Linked DNA regions of Homo sapiens: regions 1, 3 and 4 are each linked to region 2. Evidence: fine-mapped expression QTL. A gene starts in region 2. Each other region holds a variant in brackets. All regions are shown on one strand. Distances are from middle to middle.

Region 1 (8,108 bases), 220 kb after region 2:
AGTTTTTTTCCCTACATTTCAACGAGATAGTAACCCTTTTGTCATAGTGTTACAAAGTCTTTCTGTAGTCTATTAAATGTTGGTGTTTCCATTGTTCTGAATTTCAGTAATTTTGGTACAATCGTATCTGTCTTCTATTGCCTTTGAGTATATCTGATGCATCAAAGCATGGATAAATATTAGGTCTGTGAAGAATGTAGACTCTTCCGTTGCATGCTAGTTGTTTTAGAATTTAATTTTAAAATGAAATATTTAATTATGTTATCCATCTGTAACTTATCTTTTTATGTTTCCTGTGGATCTTACTGAAAGCTTTTCTCATTTGCCATCCGCATCTCACAGAGACTTGTGCTTAATAACCCCGCCTTTCTCCTGTTGTACTGAAATCTGCTTTGTCATATGCTACACTTTCATATAGTCAGACCTGTTTATGGACTGTCTGTATTGTGCCACACTTTTCTCTTTGAATCAGAGTATCAGAGTGAATTAATGAACTTGGCTTCATAACATTTACTAAAACCTTGGTTCTTTTCAGAATAAAAAATCCTTACTGTTTATATTGCCAGATTAGTTTTGTAGCAATTTGTGAAATTGCAAAATATCGCACTAGAATTGTAATTAAAACTGTATTAAATCTGTCAGTTAAATTTAGGGGAATAAGCAGTTACAAATATTAATGTTCTCATCCTGTAACAAAGTACACCTTTCCATTTCATCAAATCAAATCTTATTTTATACAATGAGGTTTTGTAGTTTGATTTTAAAGGTTGCCTTCACCTAAGCAGATTTCTAAAAATTTAACATTTTGTGGAAATCATGAGTAGAATCTTTCATTATGCTTTCTAACTGAATATACTGGGTGACTTGCTTTTGTTTATTTCTACTGTTAAGTATTATTGTTTTCTACTTATAAGGCATCATTACTATTTAGTTGTCACTTGTATCAAAGGAAATGCAAACCTCCCAGGCAATGTAAAAGGGCTCTAGCCTGTTCAGGAAATATTGTTCTGTGAGCTTCCAGAAAGACTTCTTTCTTCTGTAGCCTAAAAGAGGGGAACTGAAGTGAGGTGTGAAAGGAAGAGAAAATTAAAGTGCACATCCATGCTTGGAAAATGACTTCATCCCCTACAAGACCTCCTAGGAATATGACCTTCCAAACAAACTCAGCAAGGAGCCTTCCTGAGGCCTTGGAAGATTTCTTATTGCCTGGGACTCCCAAAGTGGAATTTAGGGTTCGAGATGTTAAAGGAAGTTAGTTTGGAGCTCTAACAGTATTGAAACATTTGTGTGTGGCTGGACAGAAGCATAGTCCCCTCCCCTCCTTAGTTGCCGTATCTGGTTTATCTGACTGGGAAGAAATATCCTCTGGGAACTACTAGAAGAAACGTCAGTAATGGAAATTAATTCTGAAATTACGGGCACGAGGATTGAGTTAATGAGCTAGTGGAACATTTTTCCTCTGGACATGGCATCAGGGCCTTTTACCAGCATTTCCCTGATCCACCCCCATCCTGCGAGATGGAACCAAATATTTTCCTTCTGCCAGTGGTAATAGCCAAGGTCACTCGTGGCAGGGACAGGACTGCCATCCTGATAAATCTTCCCAGTCTTGAGGTCTGGACCTCCTTTGTGAGCAGACCCACACAATCTTCTATGTAGCATATCACACCTTTCCTGGAATGTTATTCCAGAATTAGTATCAAACAATGAAAAGAGTAGAATTTGTAGTTAGACCTAAGTTCAAATCCAAACACGTTGCTGACAAGCTCGTCATGGGAATGTTTATTAAATTCTCTATGCCTTTTTTTTTTTTCCATCTGTAAGATGAAACCAAAACACCACCTCCCCTAATTACTTACTCATTCAGGAAATATTTAATGCATGCCTCCTATGGTGCCGGGCACTGACATGGGCATGGCAGAGGATACAACATGGTCATGGAGCTTATATTCTAGGGGGAGAGAGAATAAATTCATATTAAAAATAATACCACAGAAGATAATAAAGCAGAAAATGTGACAGAGTAAGGATGATTGTTCTTTTAGAAGACTTGACCAGAGAAGAATTCTCTCATAAGATGTTTGAGCACAGAACTGAATAAAGGGTGGAAATTAACCATGAGAATATTGGAAGAGCATTTCAGACAGAGGGAAACGTGTGCAGAAGCTTTGTGGTGGGAGCATGCGTGTCTGAAAAACAGAGGAAAACCAGTATGATTGGAGCAGAGGATGTGATGGAGAGCGTGCTGCTGGCAGGTGAAGTTAGAGAGGTATGAGGGAACCAGGTCATACAGGGCAGTGATATGCAAACTACAGCCAACAGGCCAAATCCAGACTATGGCCTGTTTATGTACAACCCTTTAGGTAAGGGAGGTTTTTAAATTTTTAGAAGAATGTTTTTAAAACATTTTTTAAAGGGCAAATTCTTTAAAAAATAAAATAAAATAAAATACATTAAGGCCGGGCATGGTAGCTCACTCCTGTAATCCCAGCACTTTGGGAGGCTGAGGTAGGTGGATCACTTGAGGTCAGGAGTTCGAGACAGCCTGGCCAACATGGGAAAACCCCATCTCTGCCAAAAATACAAAAATTAGCTGGGTGTGGCAGTGCACACCAGTAATCTCAACTACTCAGGAGGGAGGCTGAGGCAGGAGAATTGCTCAAACCTGGGAGGCAGAGGTTGCAGTGAGCCGAGATTGCACCACTGCACACCAGCCTGGGCAACAGAGGGACACAACTCTGTCTCAAAAAAAAAAAAAAAGGCGTATCATATTTCACCCACAAAGCCTAAAATATTTGCTATCTGCCCTTTTACAGAAAAAAAATTGCCTGATGCACGGCCTTAGAGGCCACAGTGAGGACTTTGTACTTGTATTTTAAGTATGGTGGGAAGCCATTGTGGGTTTTTGAGCAAGAAAGTAACATGATGTGATTGACAGTTTTTAAAGGATGTCTCTGGCTGCCGTGACTGAAAGGAGGAAGGGCAGAGCAGGGAGCACAGTTGGAAGGTCGGTGATTAACAAAACCCTGGTGAGACCTGGTGGCAATAGAATGGACTAGACTGGCAGGCGCAAGGTGCTGAGTAGTGGGATACAGAGTATCTTTTGGAGGTGGCACCGAAAGATGCTTTGAACTAATGGGGGAGTATGAGAAGAAGAAAGGAGTGAAGGATGACACCAAGATTTCTGGTCTGCTCACCCCTCGTAATGCTTTCATGGAAACGGAATGAGACTATTTTTTTTTCTACTTCTGTGGCTTGACCGTCCCATTTCTTCCACCATTTTGCAGTCAGGGTTCCCTTTCTAAGGTACAATTTTGATTGTGACACTGTCCTTTCAAAAATCTACTCCAGTATCCTGTTAGCTGTGGAACAAAGTCCATCCACTGAGCCAGTCAGTCTGAGCCCTCCATAATCTGGCCACCCCTCACCTACATCCTGTGTCATGTCCTTTTACTCCTGTTCATCCACCCCACCACAAACCAGCGAATGGTCTGCAAGTCCCCATATGTGCTTTATTCTTTCCACTTCCAGACCTTTGCCCACATGTGCTCCTCTCTTACTATGGAGGTGTGTCAACAGTCCTACCAGAATGTTGTGGCCTACTTTTACAATAAGGTCATTGCATGATACCTCTTTATCCTCCTAGTCTATTTCAATACTCTCTGCCTTCACCTATTTTAATAGGTGTTTCCATTTGTAACATCATTTTTATACACAAATCTCATCCCCCATCATCAAACTTCAGAAAAGGAGACAGTATAGCACATAGTTAAGTGCCCTCACTTTTGTTAAATCCTGACTGTGAACTTGGAACTTATATGACTTTGAGCAAGCTACTTAATCTCTGTAAACCTCAGTAGTGTGTGCCCAATGGTAGTAATCACCATGATGATAATTATCAAAAGCTCTGTAGGAAAACCACTTTTGCCATTCTAGCACTTGAAGCTTGCTTGTTCCCTGAAAGCAATGGTTCTCAAAACATGACACCCCCCTCCCCCAGCTTTTGGGGATCAGTGACTCTTAATTCTTCTTATGATTAGAGAGTTGGTAGGGACAAAGAAGAGTTGGAGGAAGGTAGGAAGTATAAGCTGGTCAGTGGATCCGTTTGAGATGTAGGACTGTTTTGGGAGGACACACCCACAGTGTAAGCCATCAGGAGCCATCCATTAACTTGTAATAATATAAGTGGATAAGATCAATTTTTGGTAGATTGGCAAGATGTGAAAATTATTTGGTATGTCTAATTTTAACATTAGCTGTTGACACATTTATAAATACAGAAACTAAAGTTAGTGCAGATGATTTCAAGAAATTTTAAAATATTGTGAAGAGCATTGTAATTCCACACAGTATTAAAGCCTGGAGAACACTTAAATAATCTCTGTAGCTGTGGGAAAAAGCGCAGCCGCATTTATATTTAGTTACCGGCTTTTTTGGAACATGATACCACGTTTATCTTTTTTCTCTTCTTTAGGCTCATTATGTGACATGAAAAATCATCTTTTTGACAGAGTGATGCTATTAATCCAAATA[G/T]AATTGAAATAAAATTACTCCAGGCTTTGTCCTCCACACTACCTGATTCCCTTTCCTCTGCATTGCTCATTGGTGTGGTTGCAGGTGGACACGGGAGACGGGCAGAGCCTCAAACCAGTCCTTGGGCTGCCAGTCTGTAACTCTGAATAAAATGGACTGCATAAGAGGTGTCCTTGAAGAAAAATGCTAGAATTATCTTCATAATTAATTTTTATCTCAAGCTTTAGATTCTCTTTCTGTGCATGTTTGGGGAGGGGAGGGCTTATGCTCAAATATTTTCTCCAAAAAGGGTGTGTGATCAAAAACTTGATTGCTGGTTAGCATGATGAAGAGATACTTAGGTGAGAGGTTGGAAATGTTGATGCCAAAAACTCCTAGAATTTTCTGTAGATTTCCATTTTCCATGCGACCTACTCACCTCTAACTATAATAAATTACAGTTTTGTCTCCTATCATGTACCATTCAGTTCAGCATGGTGACGTGTGAATCAGATTCAGGGAAAGAATAAGAAACAGACACCAGTGGCTTTATGTCGGGCCATCTCTCCCTCTCATGCCTCCCTCTCCCACTGTTTGGGCAGCCACTGAGCAAATAGCCAAAGTGGAACTGCCTGGTGAGGCAGAGAAGATACCTAGATGGTCTCTCAACTGAAGGATCTATTTCTGCATAACTGGTTACCCTTTTAAAGTCCTGGATTTCAGAGCCATCTCTCGTTGGTGAGATCTGTGTATAAAGGACCCATTTAAGGGAGTGGGCAGAAGGCATAAGTGCCTTGAAGGGAAAAGACTGCATGGCACAGAATGTGACCATGTGCCGCCTGCCACACTGCCTTTGTGTTGCTAGGCTATGGCTACATCACATTTGTTTCTCTCTCTCACTCTGAACGCTTCTGAGAAGTTTCAAAGGAAGGTAAGCAGTACCTATGTCACTTACATGCTTCTCTGGTAGAACAGCTCTGGGTTTCTGCTGATCCTGGGCAGAGGCCATTTCTGGGAATAGATTTGGTCCCACACACCCTCTCCCAAGGATGTTGCATGGCTGTGGTCACACGTCTCTTTCTGCCCGTAGACCAGCCACTTGCTTCTGGAATGAATTCCTTAGGAGCTTTGCAATGGGTCTTTTCCTGGTAGTCTGTCTCCCAGAATTATTGTGTTGCTTGGCTCCCGGAGAAGCCACAACGGGCATGTGCTGACCTTATTCTTCCTCATTCCCACAGGCAGCACAAGGAGGTGGCCACAGGACCCTGTTATACGGCCATGCAGTTCTCCTGAGGCACTCTTTCAGCGGAATGGTAAGCAGCTCTGGTGCCCACTTTCATCATTCAAGGAGAAGGAAAAACTGAAGAGGGGGAAATACAGGAAGCCAGCAATAACAACGTAACAGCAGGAACAATTGGAACATAACTAATTTTAGCACGTTATCCTCTTGGCATTTCCTACATATGACCTACCTCAATTTGCAATAATTGCAATTGTGTTTTTTGTTTCATCAATGTCTGATACCCCACCTCCAACTCCCTGAGGAAGAGGGCCATGTTTCTTTCTTATTTTGCTAGACCTATAACCCCACCAAATGCAGTGCTTTGATATACTAGATGCTCAATAAATATTTGTTGAATTGACACATGATCAAATGGCTTATGGAGTAACAGAGCGCTTTAGTATACAAGGATAACCAGCATAGAAGAAAAACCAATCAAATGGAAATTTTGTGACAGTTCTCCTCCTTTACCTAGCTAAGAGAAATAGAATGGTACTCACTGTTTTCAGTCCTGGAAGAACTTGCAGGTGGGATGCTAATCCAGAGCCAGGAGGAAGACAAGAGGCAAGGTAGTCACAGAAAGCTGCATGGCTATTACTAATCAGGGATCTAGAACCAGAATCGACAGAAGGATGATGCCTCAATGTAACTTGAAAAAATTGCTACATTTTAAATATAATTTATTTATAATTTATAAAAAAATATAATTTTACAATATTTTAAAAGGCAGATATTGTAGTTTTGCAGGGAGTATTAAGGAGAATATTATTACTCAATCAACTATATGCCACTCCAATAGTGTATCATCCTCACTTTCTTTCGGTGTAAGAAAGGCTTGTCATTTTCCTCTAGCCCTAGTGGAAAACTGATACGTTAATTCAAGACTATTTCCACACATTTATACCAGCAGCATGATGCAAAGTTCATCTCAAGGCTTGAACTATCAAACTGACAACAGGAGCAACAGCTGCCTGTTAAATAATTCATTTGCTGCAGCATATATATATATATATTTTTTTTTCTGAGCACTGGTAAGAGGCTGACCTTTTCAGCCTGAACATTCGTCTGCTGTAGTCCTTCATGGCAAAAGACGAAAAACAAAAATGTCCAAACGGAAGTGTATCCAAGTAGGAGATGGAGATGTTTTTGAGAGTAGGGAAACTTTGAACCCTGATAATATCTGGAATTGAGAAGGTGATACTATCTTTCAGAATCTGGTGTTTATCTATAGGGTAAATAAAACTCCAACACTTGTCTTTACCTAAATGTAATAAACAGAACTTCAAAAGCATACTTCTTATGGCTTCAAAAACAAGCTAATATCATGGTAGTGACACAAAGACTTGCATTATTTACATTAAGTTTACCCCTCCTAAAAAAAAGTTCTACTCACAGTGAACATATACTCTCTACTGGCTAGCTCCTTTTAAGTACAGCTCTGGGAATAAAGCCTATAAGATATGGCTTTCTACATTGCAATGATTTTCCATCTTCCTCTCGCAGAGAAGTAGAACTGTGGCTTAGAAAGCACATCCCAAGAGCTTACCTGCCTCTCAGTCTAATCCTAAGATGAGCAGCTATGCCCATCAGTGAAGGAGGCCATGGGATGCTTTATTAAGTTAGTTTAACAGTCATTTCTAAGTTTTACCTGCCCATGTATCTTTATAATAAGAAAAAGAACCATTATTTTGAGGAGTTTTAAAGCTCATAGAAAATTTGAAAAACCAAAAACAGAAGGTCATGGGACCTTCTGTCCCATGGTCATGGGAAGGTCATCCATGTCCCTCCACACTATCCAAAATCAACTTCTGTTTCATTTTTGTGTAATTCCTTTTAGTCTGGTTGCTACACATTTAAATTTTTGAGTACAGGTTAACTTATAATTGTACTATTTTATATATTACTTTTTAGCTTCATGTATTGTAAATAATGTTCCAGGCTCTTACACATTCTTGATAAATACTCAATAACATAATATTATATAAAATAGCAGTATCAAAGGTTATCTAGCTTTATTATTATTGTTGGTCATTTATGTTCCATTTGTATTGTTCCTAATTTAAAAGTTTCTCAACATCTTTAAGGCATCTTTAATATTTCTAACTCATTTCTATAACATATAGTTCTATACATTTAACTACTGAGTCATCAGATAAGAGCATCTTTGAGGTTTTAAGTGTATTGTAAAAGTATTTTCAGCTGGGCATAGGGTGGTTCACATGTGTAATCCCAACACTTTGGGAGGCCAGGGCAGGAGGATCACTTGAAGCCAGGCGTTCAAGACCAGCCTGGGAAACATAGATAGACCACATCT
Region 2 (8,108 bases):
CTGAATCAAGGATTTTTGGTATGGCTTCCAAGTTTTAGGACAAAGCTATATTAGTATACCAATTTAGTAGCTTATTATAAAGATCTTGGAAACAATTGATAATTTTTTCTTAACATTAAAAAATGACTTTTGTAAAATGTGTATACCATCGTTCCTACTGACACCAAATTAAAAGCAGGTGTAGTCTCAGGAGCTCTTTCTGTTCACAGGCTTCCCTGGTGAAAATAACTTCTTGCCTTGGAACACCTGAACAAAAAGCAGAGAAAAGTGTTTTTTTTTCTTTTTGCTAATGAAAAACAAATAAATCTTCAGTCAGTATATAATAGTACTTGTGTATATGGTGAGATATTTTAAAAGATGGTAGCTAGCAGAGTCAGTTCCCTCAACTCTACAGTTCTTTGCATCATTCCCTTTTATATGTTCCTTAGGCAAATCCTGAGTCAATGCAGACCAAAGCCATGAGCGCAATTAATGGAAGAAATGCATTTTCAGCAAATGGATGGCTGCTATAGTTAGGAAGTGAGGCTGAAATGGATATTGGAGAAAGATTTAGTGTTGTGTAGAATTTAATATATTGCTAGTAACATGGGTGAAGGCTATCTTTATCAAGTGTGACCTCTTAGCTTCTGTGTCTCCAAGCATGGGAAGTCCTAGCTTGTTAAAGCTTAAGCCTGCCTCCCCTATGGCTAAATGAACAAAGATGTATGAGACTTTTAACCAGAATGAAGGGGCCAGAGTCTTTGGACAGCAAATGGAGTGAAGCTAACTGGCCCTCCTAGAACTGAATCCATATCCTTGGCCTCATTGAGACCACTTGGGCAACTGGCTACCATGAATAATACAACATAGCAAATGAGATACTGACTTATATGAGTGTGGACATTTTCATTAGCATTTTAAAACTATAGCAATATTACTGTTAAAACACAAATAAGAGGCCCTCTTATGTGAGAAAATCCTTAGGACCAATACTTTGAGAACCTCCAGAGGAGAAAATAAATACATGAATTTTATTTCAATAGTCAATATTGAATAACAATATTTCAATGTCAGGCCTTTAAAATTGTATATGTAAAAGGTATAAAAGTGCTATAATGATAAAAATGAAAAATTTCTGATTTGGCCCCCACTACAGGCTCTCCACCTGCTGTTGATATTGGCTGCAGAGTGCCCCAACATTCAAATACAGCAGGCTTTGAGGTCTGACTTTGAACCATGCCAGTATCCCAAAGGTATTTGATTTCCCTGTTGTGTGCACCTAATTGAAGTCATAATAATGGCTGATAGCTTTCTCCAGAGGTTTAGAAACCTGGGAGGCTTTGGGTTTTTCTTTCAAAATGTAGTAGCTACAGTACCCTCTAAGACCTAAGGTCCAAGTCCTCCGGCTCTCTACTAAGAGTAACTGGTCTTGAGAGAGACTCAGTTTAAAATATAGGCTGTGTGGAAGCAAACCCAATGTGTATGGGGTATGGGGGCATGGAGGTGGTGTATGAACCTGATGTTTTCCACTTTGCTGTTCTAGAAGCAAGGCACTATAGTGGAGAAAGTACTGAAAAGTATTGAGATTGTTTTACTCCAAGTAAGAGGAGATTGTGTGACTCCTTTTACTAGATGTATGAATTTAGACAAGTAACTTACTATTAGTTTATTCTCTCCCGGTCTTAATGGGTGAACTAATAGCAAAACAAGTATCAAAGCACAGTGTCTGAACTACTATTTATCTGTACCTGTATGACTACAGCATCATTATTGGTGCATCTTTGGGAAATCTTAGAGAATGGAAGAAGTACCAATAGATTTCAAATAGAAGTAAATGTCCACCTTCCCCAGTTTACAGTCTGAAACAACAGCCTGAGACTCTTTTATACGCTGAGCTCCAGAACAATCTTAGATTTTGATAATTAAACAGCTTACTTTTGGGAACTCTAAAGGAACACAAAGACCATCAGGAATCCAAGTGGATGCACCAATGGTGTTACAGAACTCCATTCTTACTTCTTTTGTGGTAGGGTTATTTGACTGATGCGGGAGGTGGTGTCCCAGATTACATATCTGTATTTCAGTAAAGTATGTAAGAAAGGCATTTATAGTAGCCCTATGAACAAGAAGAAATTTGGGCTGCAAAATAATATATTTATGTAGGTTATTTTTTAATTATAACTTTTATTTTAGGTTCAAGGGTACATATGTAGGTTTGTTACATAAGTAAACTGCATGTCATGGAGGTTTGGTGTACAGATTATTTTGTCACGCAGGTAATAAGCATAGTACTCAATAGGTATTATTTTTCTGACTTAGGTAAGTTCTTGATCATTAAATAAGCATAATCAAAAGTATGAAAGTTAATCCAACAGGGCCTCTATTAGTATTCTGAAGGTATGCCATATTAAGCATAATCAAAAGTATGAAAGTTAATCCAAGAGGGCCTCTATTAGTATTCTGAAGGTATGCCATATCACAGGTTAGTAATAATTAGCACCTTGCCTGGCATACTCTAGCTTTAAAAATACCTTAAAGGTTCACATATAGAGACATCAATACATGATTGGGTATTACAATTGGAAGGAACACACACACACCCACCCACACACACACACACACACACACATATTTTTGAGACAGAGTCTCGCTCTTGTTGCCCAGGCTGGAGTGCAATGGCATGATCTCGGCTCACGGCAATCTTCACCTCCCGGGTTCAAGCGATTCTCCTGCCTCAGCCTCCCAAGTAGCTGGGATTACAGGCATGCACCACCACGACCGGCTAATTTTGTATTTTTTTTTTTTTTTTAGTAGAAATGGGGTTTCTCCATGTTGGTCAGGCTGGTCTCGAACTGCCGACCTCAGGTGATCCACCCGCCTTGGCCTCCCAAAGTGTTGAGATTATAGGCGTGAGCCACCGTGCCCACAGGTACTCAAGCACTTGCATGTGATCAAGATGGAGAAGAGCTGACTTTTGCAGTTCACGTGGGAGGAAAAAAGTAAATCTAGAAATTCTAGTTAACTCCAAACACAGTGAGTGTCATTAGTGTTTCTCCAGAAGCCAATCCAATATTAGGCTGCACATAAAGACTGTCCAAAACAAGGACGGAGAGCACAACAATTCAGGAAGAAGACCACCTGGAATGCTCATATGGCCATCAAAGATGACATAGGCTCTGGAAACTATACTACAGGGAAAGTTGGGGCTAAGAAGAACCTTGAGCCAGGAGAAGAAAAGAGTGGATGGTGGGCCATAGAGGCAAGCATGGCAGATGCCTTCTAAGAGGTGAAGGGCCACAATGTACAGATGGTTTGACTTATTCTAGGCGGGTTTCAGAAGAGGCACAAGGCCCAAGCTGAAGCCTAGAAGGTAGCAGTTTGAGTACAATACAAGAAAAAAACATTTTTCTTTGCATTTCTGATGTTCATCAGAACATATGGGACGGAAGCTCAGGAAAGAGATCTTAAGGTAGCATCAAGAGATAGATGTCGTCCACAAGGAGGCGGTATATGAAGCTGTGAAATGGCTTGGGGTTTCCAGTGTCTTCCACCATCATCAGCCCAGAATTACCACCTTCCCAGTTGCACTTCCTCCTAAATCTACATCTCTGGTGCCTTTTGCCTTGAACAGTCTCTTGCCTTGGAGCTTCTCGGCCATCAAACAGAAGGGGGCACCCTGCACCGTCAGTCAAGGCAAGGACCAATCTGGCAATCCCCAACCATGGAAAAGGACCTAAGGCTGGGTGGGATGTAGGAGCCTTCCAGGACCTGGAAGGGAGCCTCCTGTAACTACTCTCTACTCCCTTTAGAGTCCACAGGGCTGGAACTCTAAATGCAGAATAAGGTTAGGGGTGGGCAGAGAGGAAGGGTTGTGATGCCACCTGACTTCCAAATTGAGGGTGGCACAGGATCCCCCAGAAGCTCCCTGGGGTACAGAAGTCACAGCAACCCTGGACAATCCAGGGGTTTGGTAAAGTGTACTTACCAATTTTGAAGAGGGGAAGGGGTTCTCTTAAGGTGTAGAAAGGACTATCCAGGGAGTTGCAAACTTTGTTGTAAGTGGACAATCACCCTCGCTCCTCACTGCACCGTCTTCTCCTTGCCCAACAATGCACGCGGGTCCTAGCAAGGTATTCGAGTCCAGATCTCTCTCTCTCTCTCTCTCTCTCTCTCTGTCTCTGTCTCTCTCTCTTTCCTCTCTCTGTCTCTCTGTCTCTGTCTCTCTCTTTCCTCTCTCTCTCTCTCTGTCTCTGTCTCTCTCTTTCCTCTCTCTCTCTCTCTATCTCTGTCACACACACACACACACACACACACACACACACACACACACAGGCAAAGTGGGCAAAGCGGGCAAAGCGAGCAAAGCGAGAGGGTTGGTACCCAGTCTGGGCGCGCTGGAGCTAAGCAACTGGCCTTTGTTTGTGAATTGGAGCAGTTTAGGGGACATCCTCCGGTCGCCGCGGGGCGCGCGCCTCCGCTGAGTGTGCGGTGCGGTACCCAGCGGTGCGGGGGAGGCTCCACCGCGCCAGCCCAGGGCCCCCGCACCGCCCCCGCCAGCTCGACGCGCCCAGCGTTGCGCTCTCCACGGAGCGGGCGGCCGCAGCGCACTTGGCTGGGGCGAGAGGCGAGAGGGGTGGGCGGACTGCTTGGTTGGCGTTGGCGCTCTGCAGTGCAGTGGAGTGTTAGCCCAGCTCCCTATATGGTCGGGGATTAGCTTGGCGCTGCTGAGGCTGAGGCTGAGCCAGGAGCTGGAGGAGGAGGTGGAGGACGAGGACGAAAAGGAGGAGGAGAAAGAGCGCAGCAGCAGTCAGCGCACGCCGAGCGGCTGCCGGGGGAAGCAGAGGCGCCGGAGGCTGGGGCACCGCCGACGCCTCGGGAGCCATGGCCGAAGGGGGAGAAGGAGGCGAGGACGAGATCCAGTTTCTGAGGACTGTGAGTCTCCGCGGCGGGGGCGAGGCCGTGGGCAGGTGGGGAGGAGCGCGGAGCGCGGCGAGGAGGGGCTGGCTGCGCTGCGCCGCGGTGCCGGGTGCCCGGTGCCGGGCGCTTTCTCCGCACCCGCGGGCTGCAGAGGCGGACCGGCCACCTACCCGCGGGGCCGCGAGGGGCTGCGTGGGAAGGGGCACCATCTCCTGCCTCTCCCTTGTTCCCCTACCGCCACCCCTGCCCCAGGCCCTCCACCTAGGACCGCTCGCTCTCCAGGCAACTTGCTACTTGGTCTGAAACCCTTGATGCCCAAACTTCAGCCGGGGTTTGTTCGCGGTTGTCCTGACCCATAAGATCGGCGTTGGAAGCCCTCGCCCCGGGGTCGGCCCTCTGACACCTCCATACTCCACCCCAGCCCCATTCCTCTTCCAGGGCGCCCCCACGCACAGGGGAACCTCCGGGAAGGAGCCAGCGGGGCAGGGGGGAGTGTGGGGAGCCGGGTCGGAGAAGCGGGCGCAGGCGCTTGGTCCTAGCCCTGGGATCGCTCGGAGGGGAATTCACCCAGCGCTGCCCCTCTCGTGTTAAGCCCCACGCCGGCAACTGCTGCTGGAGCCTGACTTGACTGACTGCCTGTCGTGTGTTCGAGAGCTGTGGCTTCTGCTCCTGGCTCCCGCGAGCCCCGCAGGACAGGGAAACCCCAGTCAGTGGCTCCGCGTCACTCAGGTCCCCTCCTTGACACCTGAGGGCGCTGCTCCGTCCCAGATTTGGGGGTGAGGGGGCGAAGTCTGTTGCAGCCACACCAGCCTTGCCCTGTAGGAGATAATACAAAGACTTTCAGGGTGGACGGCCACCCGGAGGGGTGGGGGCATTGGGGATGCATCCTAGCGCTGACTTCAGCCAAGTGACCTTGAGCAAGTCGCATAATCCGCCCTACTCAGCCTCAGTTTCCTCATGTGTAAAATAAAATGTAACCAGCGTTTCAGGGTGATAAGGATTAAACGTTATCGTGAATGTCATAATGTTTTGTAAACGGCAAATCGCTCTGTAAATCTTAGGTAATTTTATATGCGCTGCCTTGCTCTCAGGAATTAGAATGAAATTCTTTCTTTCCCTCTCTCACTTCCCTTTAAGGGTGCCCCCTTCTCCATGACCTGGTCTTCGAAGATCACAACTTACCTCTTGTCCATCTTTTGAACCACTCTCCTCCTGTTGAAGCGCTTCCTTCCAATTTACTTCAGTTTCTCTTCCAAACATGGTTCTTTTGTCAAAGCTGGGACTTGGGTCTTATTTGGGGGGGGTATGGAAGTACCTATCGCCCTGCTGGTACTACTGAGAGGCTAGAGTATTCATCTCTTCATCCTTCGTCTGACCTGCAGACCCAGACTCCATTCTCATCTCTCACACTGCACACAAGATGGCCCCACAGTTGCAACTCATGACAACCCTATTGTTATAAAGCTGCCTGCTCCCCTCAAAGCTCCATCAAATCCTTTGGTTGTCCCTCTGACAGGTGTCTTTAGTAGTGGATGGGTGGCAGCTCAGGTTTTTTCTGCCTTGTGTCCTCCATGATCAGTCATTTCTTCTCCTTATTATTAATGATCTTCTAGGCGTTATTGCTTGAAAAAATTATCTTCAGACAGGGTCAGTGTTGAATAGATGTCCCAGGGAGTTGAGGCTTAGGAAGGTGGTAGTTGTTGTGAGATCCTTATGCTTTTCTCTTGGCTTCTGAGCCATCTTCCCTGACTTTTCCTCTCCATCTGGCATTGTAAGTGTTTTTTGTTTTTGTTTGTTTTTGGTACACCTGTAGCCAAGGTTTACTATAGTAGTGGTTCTTAAGTTTTGTGTCCTGGGCTTCCTGCCCTAGAGATCAGAGCTGGCAGACCTCTTTTAAAGTACACCCATGACAGCCTGTGGGGTTCAAGGACCCAGGTTCAGAGCCCCTGTTGCAGAGAACTGCATACCGGTTATGGCTTAGAGCGAGTGATGGTGGTAACCATGGGGGCAGTGACTCCAAATGTGGCGTTATTGGTTCTTTTCCTTCTAGTTATCACCTTATGTATTTTTTAAGGTGTGTTCCTCATTTCTTCACCCTATGAGGCACCTTAACATCTTTGTTTTTAGCTCACTGGGAAGGAAATAGGTGATGAAACTGAAGCACAGGAAATCGAGTGACTTGAACATAGCTGTTGACAAGTTATTGGTAATTTTCATTATACAATGTTCAATTACATTCCCGCTAGAGCCTGGCATTGAGCGTTACGCCAGATGTTATATATAGTCTTAAGAATATACCTAAGAACATAAGAGGAGTACTGCAGCTTTCTGAGCTTGGCATCCTCCTTCTTCATCTGTGAATTCGACAAAATGATTTTTTGGAATCCAATAGCCATAAGCTTTTGATCTCTGCACAAAATTTTGACTTTAGGGTAGTTGGGAACACCAGGCTTGTGCTAGCAGTGGGATTTTTCTCTCCTCTGGGTATGTCTGGGTTAGGGAAGCTATTTCACTTTGAACTCACTCAGTTACCTTTGCCTTAGGCTTTCTTTCTCCTCCCCAGACAACACCTTTAAAAGCATTTTGGCAGTGTATTAGTCATATATAATGCTTCCTCACATCGACATGGTCCTGGATGAGAAGGTGACTCATACTGGACCATGGAATAGAATCATATCTTTGTAACCATGAACTTTAAAGGATTGCCATCCCAGAGAGCAGAAGCTTTTAACCTATTTACAAAAAAAGACCATACAATAGCATTATGCCAAGGATCCTAATCAAATTGTTAGTGGTTGTAGTGTCAGGTTTGTTATAATAGTGCCAAAAATGAAAGCAGCTAGAACTATTGATAGTGTGAAATGAGCCAGAATTACTGCAGTAACCACTGTAGGTGTGTGTGGTGTGGCTTTAGACACTTATTTGTGGTAGTGTTTATTTTGGTTATGTCCTCTGATACATTTGGAAGCCCACCCTCTCCTAAGTAGGGAACAAGACCTAAACAAGGGCTTTGGAAGCTTAAACACATGTGAACTAAATGCTACTGTACCCCAAGCCTTAAGGAGGCAGTCTAAAACTATATACCCTCTTCTGGCCTTCTGAAATCACTGACAGTCATGTATGCCAGTTAGAATCAGGCAGATAGACAGAATCTTTAAGGCTAAAATTTTCCCTCCCACTGCTGTTGGCAGTGGCATCCTCCTCTCTTCCGA
Region 3 (8,108 bases), 76 kb after region 2:
AGATGATAATTGGCCAATGAAAGGCCAAAGAGGGCACTGCAAGCAGATGTAACCTAGAAGGATGGTGTTTTGGGGAACTGCAAGAAGCTTGGTGGGGCTGGAAGGAAAACTGGATATGGGGAAGTAAAGGAAAATGAAGCAAAGTGTGTAGGCAGCAGCCAGATCATAAGGGACTCGTCTGCTGAATTTAGGTATTAAAACTTGGTTGTGCATTAGTATAGGTACCAACATAAATATCCACAGGAACTGCTAATTTTAAAAGTGGCTTTTTTTTTTTTTTTTTTTTTTGAGACGGAGTCTCGCTTTGTCGCCCAGGCTGGAGTACAGTGGCACAGTCTTGGCTCACTGCAACTTCCGCCTCCTGGGTTCAAGCAATTCTCCTGTCTCAGCCTCTTGAGTAGCTGGGACTTCAGGTGCAAGCCACCAGCCCGGCTAATTTTCATATTTTTAGTAGAGACAGGGTTTCACCATATTAGTCAGGCTGCTCTCAAACTCCTGACCTTAGGTGATCCACCTGCTTAGCCTCCTAAAGTGCTGGGATTACAGACATGAGCCACCGTGCCCACCCCAAAAAATGACATTTTATACTTTCAATATTGTGCAAAAGAATGAAGTAGATCTGTGTACATTCATATGACGTAATCTTCAATATAAATTACATAAAATGCATTTGTGTAAAATGTTGTATATGACATATCTGTTAATATAACACATATATATGCATAGAAAAATTTTGTGGTACTGTTAATAGTAGGAGCCCTGGGGGCATGGGGTGAGTGAACAACTTACATTTCATGAAAATGATCCTTACATTTTAATGACAAGAGTCGTTTCATACCCTTTGGTAATATTTGAAATTTTAAACCTGTAGCTGTATTATCATGACTAAAAAAAAAATTCTTCAGTTAAAAAATGAACAAATTCTTCATACCTAGAATGACTTAGCACCTCTGACAGATTTGAAATAAGAAAACAATGTAATCATATTTCAAAAAGACTGTTAGGCCATAGTGAGGAAACAGAGATGGAAGAAGTGCCTCATGGAGGCAGGGAGACTAGGTGAGTGTTGGAGACTGTTGCAGGGATCCCAGACAGTAAGTGATGGGGGTAACAGTGAAGATCAAGACCAAGAGAGGATGGAAAAGTGAATGATGAGCATGTCAGAGCTCCAGGATATGCATGTGAGAAAGGAGGGAGGAGTGTGACATGACTGCCAGCTTTGTATTGTTGTGGCAACTGGCTATCTAGTGTTGCCGTCATGAGAGAGGAAAAAATAGAAAAAGGCCAGAAAAATGAATGCAGTTTTGAGATACGCCACACTTCGGTGATATGTCATATTTGTGGTACCTCTGACTGGTGATCCCTGTTGGCATCTTCCGGAAATTGCCTTCTGGATTTCATAATAGCATGAGTTAATGTCCGGCATTTTCATGGGGTCCACAATACCTGAGTCTTACCTTTCAAACTACGAGAGTCCACCTTAGTCTCTACTTGGTGTGACCATTTTGTTTTTAATTGGGTGTACATTTGCAGGGTTGTTGCATGGATATATTGCATGATGCTGAGGTTTGGCATACAGATGGTACCAACACCCAGGTGGTGAGCATAGTACCCAATAGGTAGTATTTTTGGCCCATGCCCCTCTTCCACCCTCCCCCATCTAGCAGTCCCCAGGGGCTACCATTTGACCCAGCAATCCCATTGCTAGGTATATACCCAAAGGAAAATTATTCATTCTGTCAAAGAGATACATACAGTCGTATGTTCACTGCAGCACTATTCAGTTGTAAACCCATGGAGTCAACTTAGGTGCCCATCAACAGTGGACTGGATAAAGAAAATTGGGTACATATACACCATGGAATGCTATGCAGCCATAAAAAAGCACGAAATTATGTCCTTTGTAGCAACATGGGTGCAGATGGAGGCCATTATCTTATGTCAATTAACGCAAGAACAGAAAACTAAATACCACATGTTGTCACTTGTAAGTGAGAGCTAAACAAAACAATGGCTTTTGTCCTGTGCACTCTGCCCCCCTTTGATAGGCAGGCAAGTCCTGTCTCCTAGGTTTAAAGCTAGGTCTCCCTTTGAGAATCTTGCCATTACAAATATGTAAGATACAGCTTTTGGACCCAGACCGAGGAAAGATGCCTTGACTGTTTATCTTTTTTAAGCTTTCAGAGAGGATAGCAACCTAAATCTTCTGCCTTCCTCAAGGCACACGAAAAGGTAAAGTGGATGAAGAGTCTACTAAATAATGCAGGCCAGAGGCATCCGGGTTTTGCCTGAATTATCTGAAAAATTCCTTGGCTCCTCTGATTATAATTGAGTTTTGTCAACACAAATTGGGTATTTTGTACTTGTTTTTTTGGTCATTATTATTTTAATTAATATAATTATAATATTATATTATAATATTATATTTTATATTATAATAATTATACTATTATTTTAATTAATAATATAATAATATTAATTTAATTAATATTATTTAAATTAATATATACTTACGGTGTACAACCTTATATATACATATCTATATATGCACACACACACACACACACACGTTGTGGAATAACTACATAAATTTAATTAACCTATCCCTTACTTCACATACTTACCATTTTTTTGTGATGAAAATATCTAAACTCTACTCTCTTAGCAATTTTCAATAATGCAATGTATTGTTAACTATAATCACCATGTTGTATAATGGATCCCCTGAACTTATTCTCCTGTCTGCCTGAAATTTTGTATCCTTTGACCAACACCTCCTTAACATGCCCCCCACCTGAAATTGACTGCATTTGTTTTGACTAACGATTTTCTAAGGGTTGATTGGAGGTAGTGTGGAATTTCCAACACTATAGCGGAAGCATTTAAAGGATAACTATGAAAGAAACAGTAAAATATGACCATAATATTTTAGCCTTGATGTTTTTCCCTTCCACCCTTAGATGTGCCAGCAAGGTATACGAAAAAGAAAGCTAAACAGTTTCCTGTGAAATTTCACGTAAAATCAAATTTTTTATGTCACTTACCACAGCTTTTTCCTTATTCCTCTACTTTTTCATCTACATTAAAGGGTTATTTTCTGGATGTATACAACATTCACCATTTCACTCACGGAAATGAGATGCTGCGTGATTAGTTAATAAGTGTTTATTGATTACTTCTGGGCCTCTTGGCAGAATTGAATTAGAGCCAGATACTATCCCCTTGTGCTTAATAGTACTTTTTTTTTCCCCTTGTAGAAGGTGGAGAAATATGTTCTCTTTGCTAACAACAGAGAAAATGGAATTTATCTTTTTTATCCCTGAAAATGCCAGGATACTTCAGTTCGACTGATTATTTTTAGCTGAGTAATGGGCATTATGATTCAAGTCATTCTTAGTCCATAGCTACTTCTACTACTGCTTTTATCTATAGAGTTATGAGACTCCAAAGTTAAAAAGTACTTACCTATTGTCCTACGTTAAAAACAAACAAACAAAAACCTCATAGTTTAAAATCTGAATGGTAAAGCTAAATACTCATCTTCTATGTTAATACTGACTTTGGACAGTAATGAGTTGGCTCTATATTGAGTATTTTCAAGAAATATGCTGACACTTCTGCCCCCTTTTTCTTTTCTTTTTTTTTCTTTTTCTTTT[C/CTTTTT]TTTTTTTTTTTGAGACAGGGTCTCACTCTGTAGCCCAGGCTGGAGTGCAGTGGCATTATTATGGCTCACTGCAACCTCCAACTCCTGGGCTCAAGCAATCCTCCCACCTCAGCCTCCCAAGTAGCTGGGATTACAGGTGTGCACCACCAAGCCTGGCTAATTTTTTTAAGTGTTGGTAGAAATGAGGTCTCACTATGTTACCTAGGCTGGTCACAAACTCCTGTGCTCAAGTGATCCTCCCGCCCTGGCCTCCTGTCTTGACTGGGATAACAGATGTGAGCCACTGTGCCCAGCCTCTTTTCTTTTTTTTAAAACATGTTACTGTTATAAAATAAAAACAATCCTTCTTCAAGAAAATAGAATTTATGGATTTAAAAGGCTAAAAAGAAAATCTTTTAACTTTCTATATCAATTTGTCTTAAGGTGGTAGCATTTCTTTTGATTCATACAGCCTGAAATTCTTTTCTTTCCAACACCACCCCTCTTGCTTGCTTTGTATATTCCTAGAAAATTTGTACTAAATATCAGAACTCCTGTGTTCTGAGCAGTTTCTTTAACTCATTGGCGTTTCATTCCTTGCTGTATCATAATTAAGACCATTTCCAAATACAGAACAACTCATAAGATGTCACTGAGCCCATATCTTGGAGAAGAGTGTTAATATAAAAATATGTGTTGCTAATATTGATTACTTTCGCGTCAAAAATTTAAAACATTGCCATGAGCTGGTGCACTCAAATCAAATTGGAGTCATGCCAGCATGAGCTGAAATTGTAATTGCTGAGAAGACAATGGATAATGCCCCAGTACTTCTGCTACAGCTCCTTGTCCTCTTTTTAAAAAATCATCGTAACCATTTTCAGGTGTACAGTTCAATATTGCTAAGTATATTCATATCATTGTGCAACCAATCTCCACAACTTTTTCATCTTGCAAATCTGAAACTCTCTATCCATTAAATAACAATTCCCATTCCCCCTTCCCTCAGCTTCTGGCAACCACCATTCAATTTTCTGTTTCTATGCATTTGATTACTCTCTAGATGTGTTATAGAAGCGGAATTGTAGAGTGTTGGTGGCTTATTTCACTTAGTGCAATGTCTTAACATTCATGTTGTATCATGTGTCAGAATTTTTTTCCTTTTTTTTTATTTTTTAATTTTTTTGAGACAGAGTCTTGCTCTGTCGCCCGGGCTGGAGTGCAGTGGCACAATCTCAGCTCACTGCAAGCTCCGCCTCCCAGGTTCATGCCATTCTCCTGCCTCAGCCTCCTGAGTAGCTGGGACTACAGGCGCCCACCACCACGCCCGGCTAATTTTTTGTATTTTTAGTAGAGACGGGGTTTCACCACGTTAGCCAGGATGGTCTCGATCTCCTGACCTCGTGATCCACCTGCCTCAGCCTCCCAAAGTGCTGGGATTACAGTCGTGAGACACCACGCCCAGCAATATTTTTTCCTTTTTAAGGCTGAGTAATACTCCCTTGTATGTATATACTATGTTTTGTTTATTCACTAATCCACTGATGGACAATTGGGTTGCTTCCACCTTTTGGTTATTGTGAATAGTGCTGCTGTGAACATAGGTGTACAAATATTTCTTAAGAGACTCTGCTTTCAATTCTTTTGGGTAGATACCCAGAAGTGGACTTGCTGGATCATATAGCAATTCTATTTTTCATTTTTTTGGGAAAATGCCACACTCTTCCATAGCAGCAGCATCATTTTACATTCCTAGCAACAGGGCACAGGGGTTCCAATTTCTGCACATCCTCACCAACACTTGTTATTTTCTATTTTTTTGAGAATAGCCATCTTGATGGGCATAAGGTACCTGTCAGTTTTTTGTTGCTTGATCCTTAAATATGTGCAACTAAGGATCACCAGATATTTGAAGAAAATCTGAAAAATGAAGAAAAGAACACAAGATGAATAGGCAGGAAAAATGACCTCACAAAAAAAAAACAGAAATAGAGAAGAGATTGGATTTTTTTTCTTATGATTCTCAGAAAAATGTAAGCAGACACTGCATCCATAGAACAAAATGCTCTAAAAAAAGGAACAAAGAACAAAACGTTTAATGTATAACTGTATAATGTTTTTTAAAGTACTGAAAGGGTAGATGATTTTGAGGCAGGTATAATAGAGAAAAACAATGATGGAGAATGTGAGAGAAAAGATAAGTTATAGAGAATAAGTCTAGGCGGACTAGAAAGAAAGAACAGAGGAAAGAAAGAGGAGGAAATTATAAAAAAAATTTTAATTTCACAACACTAAAAAACAAGAATGAAGGGAGCCACTTAATGTCTAGCACAAATAAATAAAACATGATCTACAGAGAAAACACAGTTTCTGAATGTTCTGAACACCTGGGATAAAGAGAAACATTTATGAATCTTTTGAGGAAGAAAACAACAAAACAAAACAAGAAAACATAAGAACAGGCCACCTGCAAAAGATCAGGAACCATAGCAACAAAGGATGTGATAGTTGATAAAGTAAAACTTTAAGTTTTTGAGTGAAAATTATCTTCAATTTAGATTTCTCTTCCCAGCAAAACTATCAGGCAAGTGTAAGAATAGAACACAGATCTTTCAGATATGTTCTAAGTGGGAGAAAAAAGTAAAAGGGAAGATGGTATAGTGGAAATAATAATTTCAACCCAATAGAGTAAGGAAGGAGAATCCCAGGTTGACAGCTGAATTTTACTGACAATTAGTTATGATTGGAGCAGGAGAAATGATTGCTTTGGGAGGAGGTATCAGAGAGTAGGGATTAGTGAGGAAAAGCGATTCTATAGGTACATTGCTACCTTTAATTTCCTAGATCATATAAGGAAGCAATACAAACATTGCAAGAATGAAGACAAGGACAAGTATAAATCCCAGGATAAATAAAATGCTATAAAATAAAGGAAATAGAGCTACGCTATACCATTGGCTTCTAAGAGTGAACAGTAGTTATGGAGTCATCATTATATAGACACTGTTCATTGATTTCAACTTTTAGAATTCACCTATAGACAAAGCATGGAAGACAGACATGGCTACAGAACAGCATGTAAGTATTATCAACCTCCATGCTATAAAAGTGTAAACATGAACAACAGAGAGCTTCAGAGTGAAGCTGGGGAGGAAACCTGAAGGGGAAGATGAGGGCACTCATCACTCTTTATTCCTATAGAACGGAGAATTAAGAAAATTCTGCCCATCATATGAGTTCATGTCCTTTGTAGGAACATGGATGAAGCTGGAAATCATCATTCTCAGCAAACTATCACAAGGACAAAAAACCAAACACCGCATGTTTAATTGAACAATGAGAACACATGGACACAGGAAGGGGAACATCACACACTGGGGACTGTTTTGGGGTGGGGGGAGGGGGGAGGGATAGCATTAGGAGATATACCTAATATTAAATGACGAGTTAATGGGTGCAGCACACCAACATGGCACATGTATACATATGTAACAAACCTGCACGTTGTGCACATGTGCCCTAAAACTTAAAGTATAATAAAAAAAAATTCATCATAGATGGAATAAGAAATGAAGGGATAAGTAATTACAAAGGAAACCCATACAGAAACCAAAAGTAGCAATCAATAGATCATATCTAAAATCAATACATTAAGAAATAATAGTGTAAGTATGTTTTTTAGTGATATGGAGATGATCAGTAGAAAATTAAAAACAGGGACATTTAAATAAAAGTGGTTGCTACTAGGGAATAACAGCAGCTGGCATGTGGTAAGGCGGGAGACTGACTTTTCATTTAAAATAATTTCTTGACTATTTTGTAACAATGGGTATCGATTACTTGCATTAAAAATTAAGAATTTAATACACAGATTAAAAGTAAAACTGTCTCCTACCGCAGCAAGTAATGTAATGGAGTGACAATTATGACATCTATGGAAAAATATGAAAAATATTTGTCCTGTGTTTAAAATCTGAACCTTGATGTACAATGTGATCATAACCTTATAAAATATATATGATCTGGACAGAGTCTGAAAGGTAACATGCAAAACAGGCATTTTGTGTGAAATCGTGAATAATTTTCTCTTTGCAAACTTTTATTTAATATCTTTTCACTGCTTTTTCAAGGATGCAGTTTAGTATTTATGGGTTATTATTACATGCAGCTATTTCACCTTTCAGTAATATTTATGAAAATGTAACATGACAGTGAATTACATGAGAAAATAGCATCCTATAAATATGCTACCTTGCCACTAAGAAAGGTCACTTTGGCTATAAAAAGTTACAATGAAGAGGGCCATGTATTTAGGCTATGCTGATTAGTTTCCAATTTCTATCATTTCAGGTATGTAAATTATTGCTGAAAACATGGTTTATGTTTGTGGTAAATGAAATTTATGTCGCCGGATGAATTGGCTTCACTGCTGGAAATCTGTACTGTTATTCCAAGCAGAGTCTCGCTGCTGG
Region 4 (8,108 bases), 140 kb after region 2:
TCCTGAGGATAATGGAGGCAATTTCTTCAAAGTTATTTCCACACTTGATAATTACTTTATCCATGGCGAGGTGCAGAATGAAAACTAGGGACTATTTCTGCCACCTGGAGAAAATTCGTTTAATTACCACTGACCTCACTAACTTCTGCTTTTCTGATTCTCTTGCTCAAATTAGTGTTCTCCTCGCAAGGACCAGGCAAGAGATTGAGATTTTCTTTCGAAATTGAAGACTTAGGACAACTGAGCTCTTCCCTCTCAGATAAGGAAGCTTTAGAATAAATACTAATATTTCTTTACATGGGTGAAAGTTGGGTATGAAAATAAGCTTAATGTGTTTGTATTTGTTTGCTAGAGCTGCCACAATAAAGTCCATAGATTGGGTGGCTTAACAGAAATCTATTTTCCCACAGTTACAGAGGCTGGAAGCCCGAGATCAAGGTGTCAACAGATTTGGTTTCTTCTGAGGCCTCTCTCCTTGGCTTGTAGATGATGACTGTCTTCTCCCTGTGTCTTCACATGGTCGGCCCTCTGTGTGTGTCCGTGTCCTGATCTCTTCTTCTAAAGACACCAGTGAGATTGGATTAGGGCCCACCGTATGACCTGATTTTACCTTAATTATCATTTATAAAACACTGTTTCCAAATACGGTAAATTCTGAGGTACTCTGGGTGTTAGGACTTCAACATATGAATTTTGGAGAAGCACAGTTCAGCCCATAATAGTATCCCAATCTTAATTAGTTCTGCCAGAAAACTCACTCTAGTGCAGAAACTTAACAGCTTCCTTTTAGCACTTTAGTGTCATTAACAGCTGTTACTCTTCCTTCTCTTACATATATTGTAGAAGGCAGGTTCTCCAACGCCTTCACCACCTTGCTCTGTTGCCTCTTGCTCTCAGAAAACTTTTTTCCTGCTCTTTCCCCAACAAATGGAGTTGATGGCAGACTCTTCTATGCCATTGTAGAGTGCGTCTCACCCTGCACCACAGTTCTTTACTTGCATCTGCAGCCCTGATTAGAATGACAGAAATGAGGCCAAAGGCCGTTTTCAACTTTGCATTCTATTATTTAGCCTGGCGTAGTATAAGTGCTTAGTAAAAGAAAAGGTGGGATGTACATGTGTTAGTATTAGTTTGGAGACAGCTTCTATTTCATGTAGTGTCAATAAAGGTAACCTTTTGTTCATTGCTTAGAACTTGGTATTCATGATGATAAATTCCTGTACTCTAATTACCTTCACACAGAGAACCCCCTGACTTCATTCAGCCAGTAGCCATTAGGGTGACTAGTTGAGAATGGGGATAACTGGGTATGAACTGGGCAGTCTTCAAAGCAACAGGAGAACTGGACATTCTGTTAATGGTAGGTCAGGAGCATTCTGTTTTCCTAAAAGGACTTCCTTCCCCACCCCATGCCCACTTACTTTCCTCCGAGCAGTATTGGGATTTTGGACTTCTTAGGAGGTTAAGGTTGTATTTTGCAGTACTCCAGTCAGAGCAGGCATTGGGTTGTGCTCCCTCTGGGAAGGACATGAGACGATGGGCTTTTTCACAGATAAGATCATCCTTGAAAGGACTGTCACAGATAAAATTGTCCAGGATGGAGGCCACTAGCTACATGTAGCTAGGCAAAGTTAAATTAAATAAAATAAAAATTCAGTTCCCCAGTGACATCTGACACATTTCAAGGGCTCAATAGCCACACATGACTAGTGGCCACAGAGTACGGACCATTTCCATCATCACTGAAAGTTCTTTTGTTCAGCATAATTCTAAAGCCCAGCTCATAACTTTTTGTTTACTTCAATAGATGATAATAGTAATAAGTACCATTTAGCATGCACTTACCATGGGTTAAACTCAAATCTCTTTTTGAGGCTCAGTGAATTAAGTAATTTGCCCAAGTTGGGTCCCCCAAATTGGAAAGTAGCAGAGACAGGATAATAATAAAAATATATTTTCTAAAATTACCAATGTAAGAGATAGAAAATGGTCCTGTACTGTAATTTCAACTTACATGCCTTTTACAATGAGGTTAAATTGGAGCAAAGCAAATTATCTGAGGTTTTGTTTCAGACCAACCTGGCCTCAGTTTCTTCTCTCTTGTCTTGGTTCCAGTGACTTGAGGTGGCTGAGTCTTCCAGTGAGGGCCTCCGGGAGGATAAGCAGCCCCTCTCAAGAAAGCAGACGTCTGGCCAGCTGCTGGCCTCGAGAATATGGAGACAGTTTGTGTTTCATGACTGCTTTTTGCTCCTCTCCCTTTTCCAGATCAGAGTCATGTTTCAGTGGGACTAAGAGCAGGATAATACCTTTTGCCCTGAGGCTACCCAATCTACCAGTGAACAAGAATAGGACCCTGAAAGGGTGAAGGAGGCCAGTCATTTGTTCATGTTTCCCTGTGAGTTATAAAACACCCCCATCAGGGGAGACTATTGTAGACCTCTCAGAGAAACAGGCATTTCTGAAGAGAAAAACAAAGGCAAAGCCTTGAGAGCGAGATTTGAAGGTGGCTGAGCACTAACAAGGAAATGTACATAAAATAAAAAGTATGTACAAGAGTTTCCACAGATGGTGACAAAGTAATGATGAGGGCCTTTTGCTGCTAGACCAAAGGTGAAGTTTATCCAGAAATCAACTTTAATCTGTATTTTCACTATTTCAGTGCAGTTGGGCTCCTGGGGAGAAAACAATCAAAGAGTAAGAGAATTATGGTTTTGGGAAGCGGATTCTGGCCTCATTAGGTGAGGAGGCTGACAGGTGGCAGGACCTTTCTTGTGCAGTCAGCTCCTGAGGGTCAATGGCTCTGTCTCGGTTGCCCCTTGCAGCTGATTGGAAGTGGCTGCGGCTGCCTGGAGTGTGGGGGAGAGAACGTGGTCACTGATTATCCTCGTCTTCCACAGGTTTAGAAAGGGAAGTGGTGCCACAAACGTCAGGTATTTGTGACGCAAGGGCCTGAGAAGTAGTCCCGGAAAGAGTTTCACTACTCAAAACTTGTGGCAGAGAGAGTAATTAATTGTCTATTGCTGAGTGGCAAGTTATCCCCAAACTTAGCAACTTCAACAAACTTATTACCTCAGTTCCTGTAGGCTTGGAATCTGGGTGTGGTTTGGCTGCAGCCTCTGGCTCTGGTTCTCCCACAGGGCTGAATCAAGGTGTCAGTGCGGGCTGTGGTCACCTTAGTGCTCCGCTGGGGGAGGATCTACTTCCAAGCTTACTCACCTAGCTGGGACAGACCTCTGGTCCTCACTGGCTGTTAACCAGAGACATCCATTCCTGACCACATGACCCCCTCCGTAAGGCAGTGGATTCCACAGTGATCAAGCGAGACAGAAAGAGGGGTCGTACAATGTGAAACTCACAGTCTCCTTGTAACATAATCTTGGCAATGACATCGTGAATCAAGCCACTAGGTCCAGCCCATACTCACCGGGCAGGGATTGCACAAGGGTGTGAGCTCCAGGAGGCAGGAATCACTGAAGGCTATTCAAGAGGTTTCTACATAACATAGTGTGAATGGGGGGCAGAATATTAAATATATTATAGAAATACATTTGTTTTATTAGTAATGTATTTTAAAATGTAACAGTGTCGTGTGTTGTCCCATGCTGAATATAAAAATAACACAAATGCCATAATGAAACCTGAAAGAATTCTGATGGTTCCTCTAAGTTTAATCAGATTGCTTTTTGCAATAACGTCAAGAGAACAGAAGTTTTGGCAAGGTGTATAGGGTAGGTCAGTCATTTTCGAGCACGGATCTCTTTGCTTCAAAGACGGTGTTCATGCTGGTGTGAAAGGAAGGTATTTAACCAGAGGGAAGCATAAAGATCCCCCAAATCCTGGGTGGGACTGGGAGGAGGGGGACAAAGGCAGCCGAGGAAGTAGAATGGGGACTGGATGAGGTGGAGAATACCCAAAAGGAAAGTTAAACCTAGTTTGAATTA[C/T]TGCTTAGTGGCAGCCCTGCCCTTCCCTTCTAGAGGCAAAGTATCCATAAATTATCTGTTATCTCAATCCTGCTTTTTCCTGTCCTTACTGCGGCTAGAGCATTAATACCTAAAAAAAAAAAAAAAAAAAAAAAAGCCGGCAACTGTGAGCATTAGCAGTTACAGTTCTCAAATGGGAGAATTCCAGGGGCATCCACACCCTGCATGGCTTCACTCAGATACAGCTTAGTGGGCTCAGATGTCTGACCAAGAATCTGAGATTTTGTGTTGTCCTTAGAGATAAAAATCCTGCTAAATAATTAGTTCTTGAATCTAATGGCTGTACTTTATTTGGGAAAACAAGACTCTGATTGTGAGTTTAATGGATTTCTAAGGCTAGAAGGCAGAGAGGGCAGGGACTGGATGCCACCAAGCCCCAGGCTGTACACCCTGTAGCTTTGCAAGCAGCAAGACGCTTCTGCCGCCCGCCCTCATCTCAAGCTTCTCTAAGTCAAAGTTCTCCACACAGCAGTTTACAGAGCCCGAGGTGCTGAGACAAAACTGTTTGGAGCAGAGTGACGTTATCTATTCCTAGGCAGAGCTCCTTGAGCTCCTTGCACCCTCTGTTCTTGAATTTTTTGAGGGTTCTTTTTTTTTTTTTAATACAATGTCAGCTTATGGGCTACGTATGTATCTTTTATTTACACTGCACACCTTGCAGCATCCTTACCTTGCAGAGTACTGAGTCCTGGCTTCATGAATTTCATGTCAAGTAAATGGGTTTTAGTCATCCCTAGTTCATGTGCATGTGCCGAGAAAAAGGGGAGCTTCTAAAACATGTGCGCAAACCACAGGAAACAGTGCAATCCTGTGTGTCTCCTATTCCACTTACTCCTCAAGGCCCCAAGGTAGGACGCATGTTTGGTGGCTTTCTGGCTTACAAGTTCCAGTGCCTACTCCCATTCCCTCAGAGGTTTGCTGTGATCACTGAGGGAAGCAGAATGGAGCATCGTGTGGTCCTTACTGGAGACTCCTTGCAGCACCTGAAACAACCCAATGTTGTTAGAGGCAAATCTGTGCTGGCAAACCTGGATCCTCATTTTATCTCTACCACTGTGTAGCTTTGGGTAAATGACAGATAGTCTGAACCTTATTAGTTTTCTCACATGTAAAATGCAAATGAGATCATTGTCAGTGTTTAATAAAGTACTGTTTATAAAGTGCCTGGCACAGAGCTGGTACATAACAGGCACTCCATAAATGGTGGCTTCCTTCCACTTTCCCCCAGTAGATAGCAGTGACCTTCATTACCTCTATTCAAACGGGCACCCTGTTCTGCTCCTTTCTCTCTCTACCCCTTCCCCACTTATCTTTCAGGATATTAACAGTTCCCATTAGCTTAGCCTGATAGAGGCTGGACAGTATAAAATGAACGGATGAGAGTGACCACTGGCTGCATAGCTCTGTTATAAATTGTCAAGATTGTCTTGGAAAAGGAACCTAAATTTTGGGGAAAAAAAAAAACTGGGGAAAAATGTGCTCCACAATCATGTGAGTGAGGTGGACAAGCAGGTTATGTTAACTCCAGAATTATTAATGCGTCAGTGACGTCTGCAGCAGCGTGCCAGAACTTGCCAGGATGGAAAAGAGGCTGGAAGATCTTCAGGTCACAGTCAAGTCCAAAGACAAGCCTAGTCCAGTGCAGACAGGAGTCAAGTCCAGAGTGACATAGCAAGGAAGATGGAATCCCATGCAAAGTGAGAGACTAAAAAAGTTGAAGCCTGAAAATTTGAGTTATTAATATTTCTGCTTTATAGTTTATAGGATGCATCTTCATGTATGATTGTTATTCTTCACAGTAGTCTTTGACTTCGTCATTATTAACTTCAGTTGATAAATAAAGCTCATAAAATTAAGGGATTTGCTCAAAGCCATGCAGCCAGTGAATAATCTAATCAGTACTCAAACCGGAGTCTTTGGGATTTCATTCTGGTGACTTTTTAAAAATTAAATCACAATCACAGACTTAATCAAACTGTCTAAGGCACTGAAGTCTGGTTGAAGGCCCGGAAAGGGCCTCCATGCTCCAACAACCAAACAGACGTGATAGTGGGACAAGACTCTGGGGCCAGGCCATGTGTGTTTGCCTCTTTCAGAATTAAAATTGGTTCCAAAGGCTGCGATCCAGCCTTTCTTTTAGAGTAAGCTCAGTTATGGGGTACAAATCAGGGCTGAAAGGGAATGTTTCTCATTGTTGGTTCTGCCCTGGTAATCACCCAGAGTGCTGCCAGTTCATTGCAGGACAGAAACAAGATATTTCTTTTTAACTTCCAACTTTCCAAAGCAGGACTGATACTGTGGCTTTGGATCGGTAATCTATCAAGGATAATTTATATTGCTTAGATTTAAAGCAGCATCTCAATTGCCAGAAAAGCAACCAAAGAGAAAAAAAATCAGTCCCATTTCTTCTAAATCTTGGCTGCAACTTTAGAAATAATATGTCTATGAAAATCAGACTACTTATTTCTATTATTATAAGAAGACATAGGCCATTGAGTATTCGTTATTCTTAAAGGGCTTCTTAAATATAATGATAGATCATAACAAAATGCCAATATCTACTGAGTACTTGTTAGATACAAGTACTGTTTTGGAGGTTTTATATTTACTAACTCATTTAATCCTCAAACAATGTGTGAATAAATGACTATTATTGTTTCCATTTCACAGCCAAAAAAATTGAGGTGTGAGAGGTTAAAAAAATTGCCAAAAGTTACATGGTGAGGTTCAGGGAGAAGATTCCAACCCAAACAGTCTGATTTCAGAACCTGGTAGTTTTCCCTACCCTGCTATAATGGATTTTATATGAAACTTAAAGTAGTGAAATTAATCAGTGAACAAGACAGACTTTAAAAACACCGTAATACTTTATTCCTAATTACAGAAAAACCTACAGCAATCTGTTAGGGTCAATGGAGGCTCAGTCTCTGAATGTTTGACTTGTCTGCAAGCAAATCTTCATACCAACATTTGCCAGAAGCCTCCTGGCTCCAACCTTTCTCCTTCCTTTGAAGACTCCAGTGAGGTTTGCTGCACTTGAAACTAGGGTTTTTTTCCTTAGGGGCAGCAGCCTGAACTGCAGGCCAAAGCTTCAAAATGGAATATAGTCAAGCAACAAGTTCTATCTCAAAGCTCAAAATAAACTAAGACCTTTATTAAATCATCCATTTGTTGGCTTAAGAACATTTGAAAGGTTAAGTGCTATATTAAAGTAAGATTTGTAGAAAAAAAATAAACCTTAATTACTATTCAGATGGCTTTTAGGCATTCTATGTCGATTTACCTCTGATTCTGGCCCAGATGTAGTTGATTTTACCAGCATTTTTCAGCTTTAAAAGTACTTTAGCTGCTTGGGGACTTTTGTGTATTCTAGAACAATCTCTGCATAATATTCCTACCATTGTATGTGGCTAAAGGAAACAACATTTGCTTCCATGATTGCCTGGGTGAGAAAGTCTTATATATTGATTGCTTATCCATAAAAAAGCAGAAATATAAAATAAGACCTACAACAGTTCTGTAGGTTTGGTGCAAAAAGGAACAACTGCTGTAATATAGTGATGATTCTCCCAAAGAATGTATATCTGTATACAAATGTTAACTGTCCATTGTACCACAAATCCTGGTATACTTGGAAAATATGCATGTGGAGTTGCATCGTCTTTGTGTTTCTGCAACAGTTGCCACGCAGTTTCCTGATTTTTCTATGGAAAGAAAAATAAGGATGTTTTTTCTAAAAGAAGTATTAGGGAAATAATACTAATGTCTTCCTGTGTTTTCATATGAAAAAAAAGTTAATTTACAATCAAGGAACCCAGACTGCACACAAATGATTAACCCTTTGACTCTGTTGGAGAGGAACAGTGAGTCAAACACAGCCTTTTCTTTTCATTGGGTCCTTTCCTAGGATCCAGCGGGTAAATGATTGACTTGTTTTGAATGAAGAATTGTTGAATTCTTGCCAGGTTGAGGCTTGGACAGTGGTACTGGACCTGAAAATTGGCAATAGCTCAGAATCTAAGCAGACATCATAAGAATTCTGCGTGAGGCTGGAGGCTATCCTTCTGGTCTGTTCCTTCAGTGATTTGTGAGGTGGGAGGCTCACTTGACAAAGTTTTGCGAAGATGC

Which allele goes with the higher level. Positions count from the first base shown, and alleles are read on the strand shown. Sizes are in standard deviations (SD) of each study's normalised expression. Not every link is listed here.
For the expression in aorta of the gene that starts at base 4,782 in region 2, allele G in region 1 goes with a lower level than allele T (small effect, 0.27 SD a copy in GTEx).
For the expression in adrenal gland of the gene that starts at base 4,782 in region 2, C is the low allele of the variant in region 4 and T is the other (moderate effect, 0.48 SD a copy in GTEx).

The links. PIP is the estimated chance that this variant, and not a neighbour inherited with it, causes the effect. A credible set is the group of variants that fine-mapping cannot tell apart.
Region 1: its variant is the best candidate, but not a certain one, in a credible set for the expression of RYR3 in aorta (GTEx, PIP 0.63).
Region 3: its variant is the best candidate, but not a certain one, in a credible set for the expression of RYR3 in skeletal muscle (FUSION, PIP 0.51).
Region 4: its variant is the best candidate, but not a certain one, in a credible set for the expression of RYR3 in adrenal gland (GTEx, PIP 0.64).

What each region holds. Positions count from the first base shown.
Region 1 is chr15:33,524,842-33,532,949 of GRCh38, forward strand. RYR3 (ryanodine receptor 3) reads left to right here. Exons shown (of 104, transcript NM_001036.6): 4 at 5,751-5,825. Among named protein-coding and RNA genes, the nearest start is that of RYR3, 220 kb to the left of the region's middle. The variant G/T (reference allele first, on the strand shown) is at 4,534.
Region 2 is chr15:33,306,186-33,314,293 of GRCh38, forward strand. RYR3 (ryanodine receptor 3) reads left to right here and starts at 4,782. Exons shown (of 104, transcript NM_001036.6): 1 at 4,782-4,911. The coding sequence starts at 4,861. It overlaps RYR3-DT (RYR3 divergent transcript), which reads right to left and starts at 4,474. Exons shown (of 3, transcript NR_120327.1): 1 at 4,393-4,474; 2 at 147-246. RefSeq lists enhancers at 5,003-5,514, 5,515-6,024.
Region 3 is chr15:33,382,054-33,390,161 of GRCh38, forward strand. All of the region lies in intron 1 of RYR3 (ryanodine receptor 3), which reads left to right. Among named protein-coding and RNA genes, the nearest start is that of RYR3, 75 kb to the left of the region's middle. The variant C/CTTTTT (reference allele first, on the strand shown) is at 3,657.
Region 4 is chr15:33,446,036-33,454,143 of GRCh38, forward strand. The region is part of intron 1 of RYR3 (ryanodine receptor 3); the gene reads left to right. Among named protein-coding and RNA genes, the nearest start is that of RYR3, 140 kb to the left of the region's middle. The variant C/T (reference allele first, on the strand shown) is at 3,942.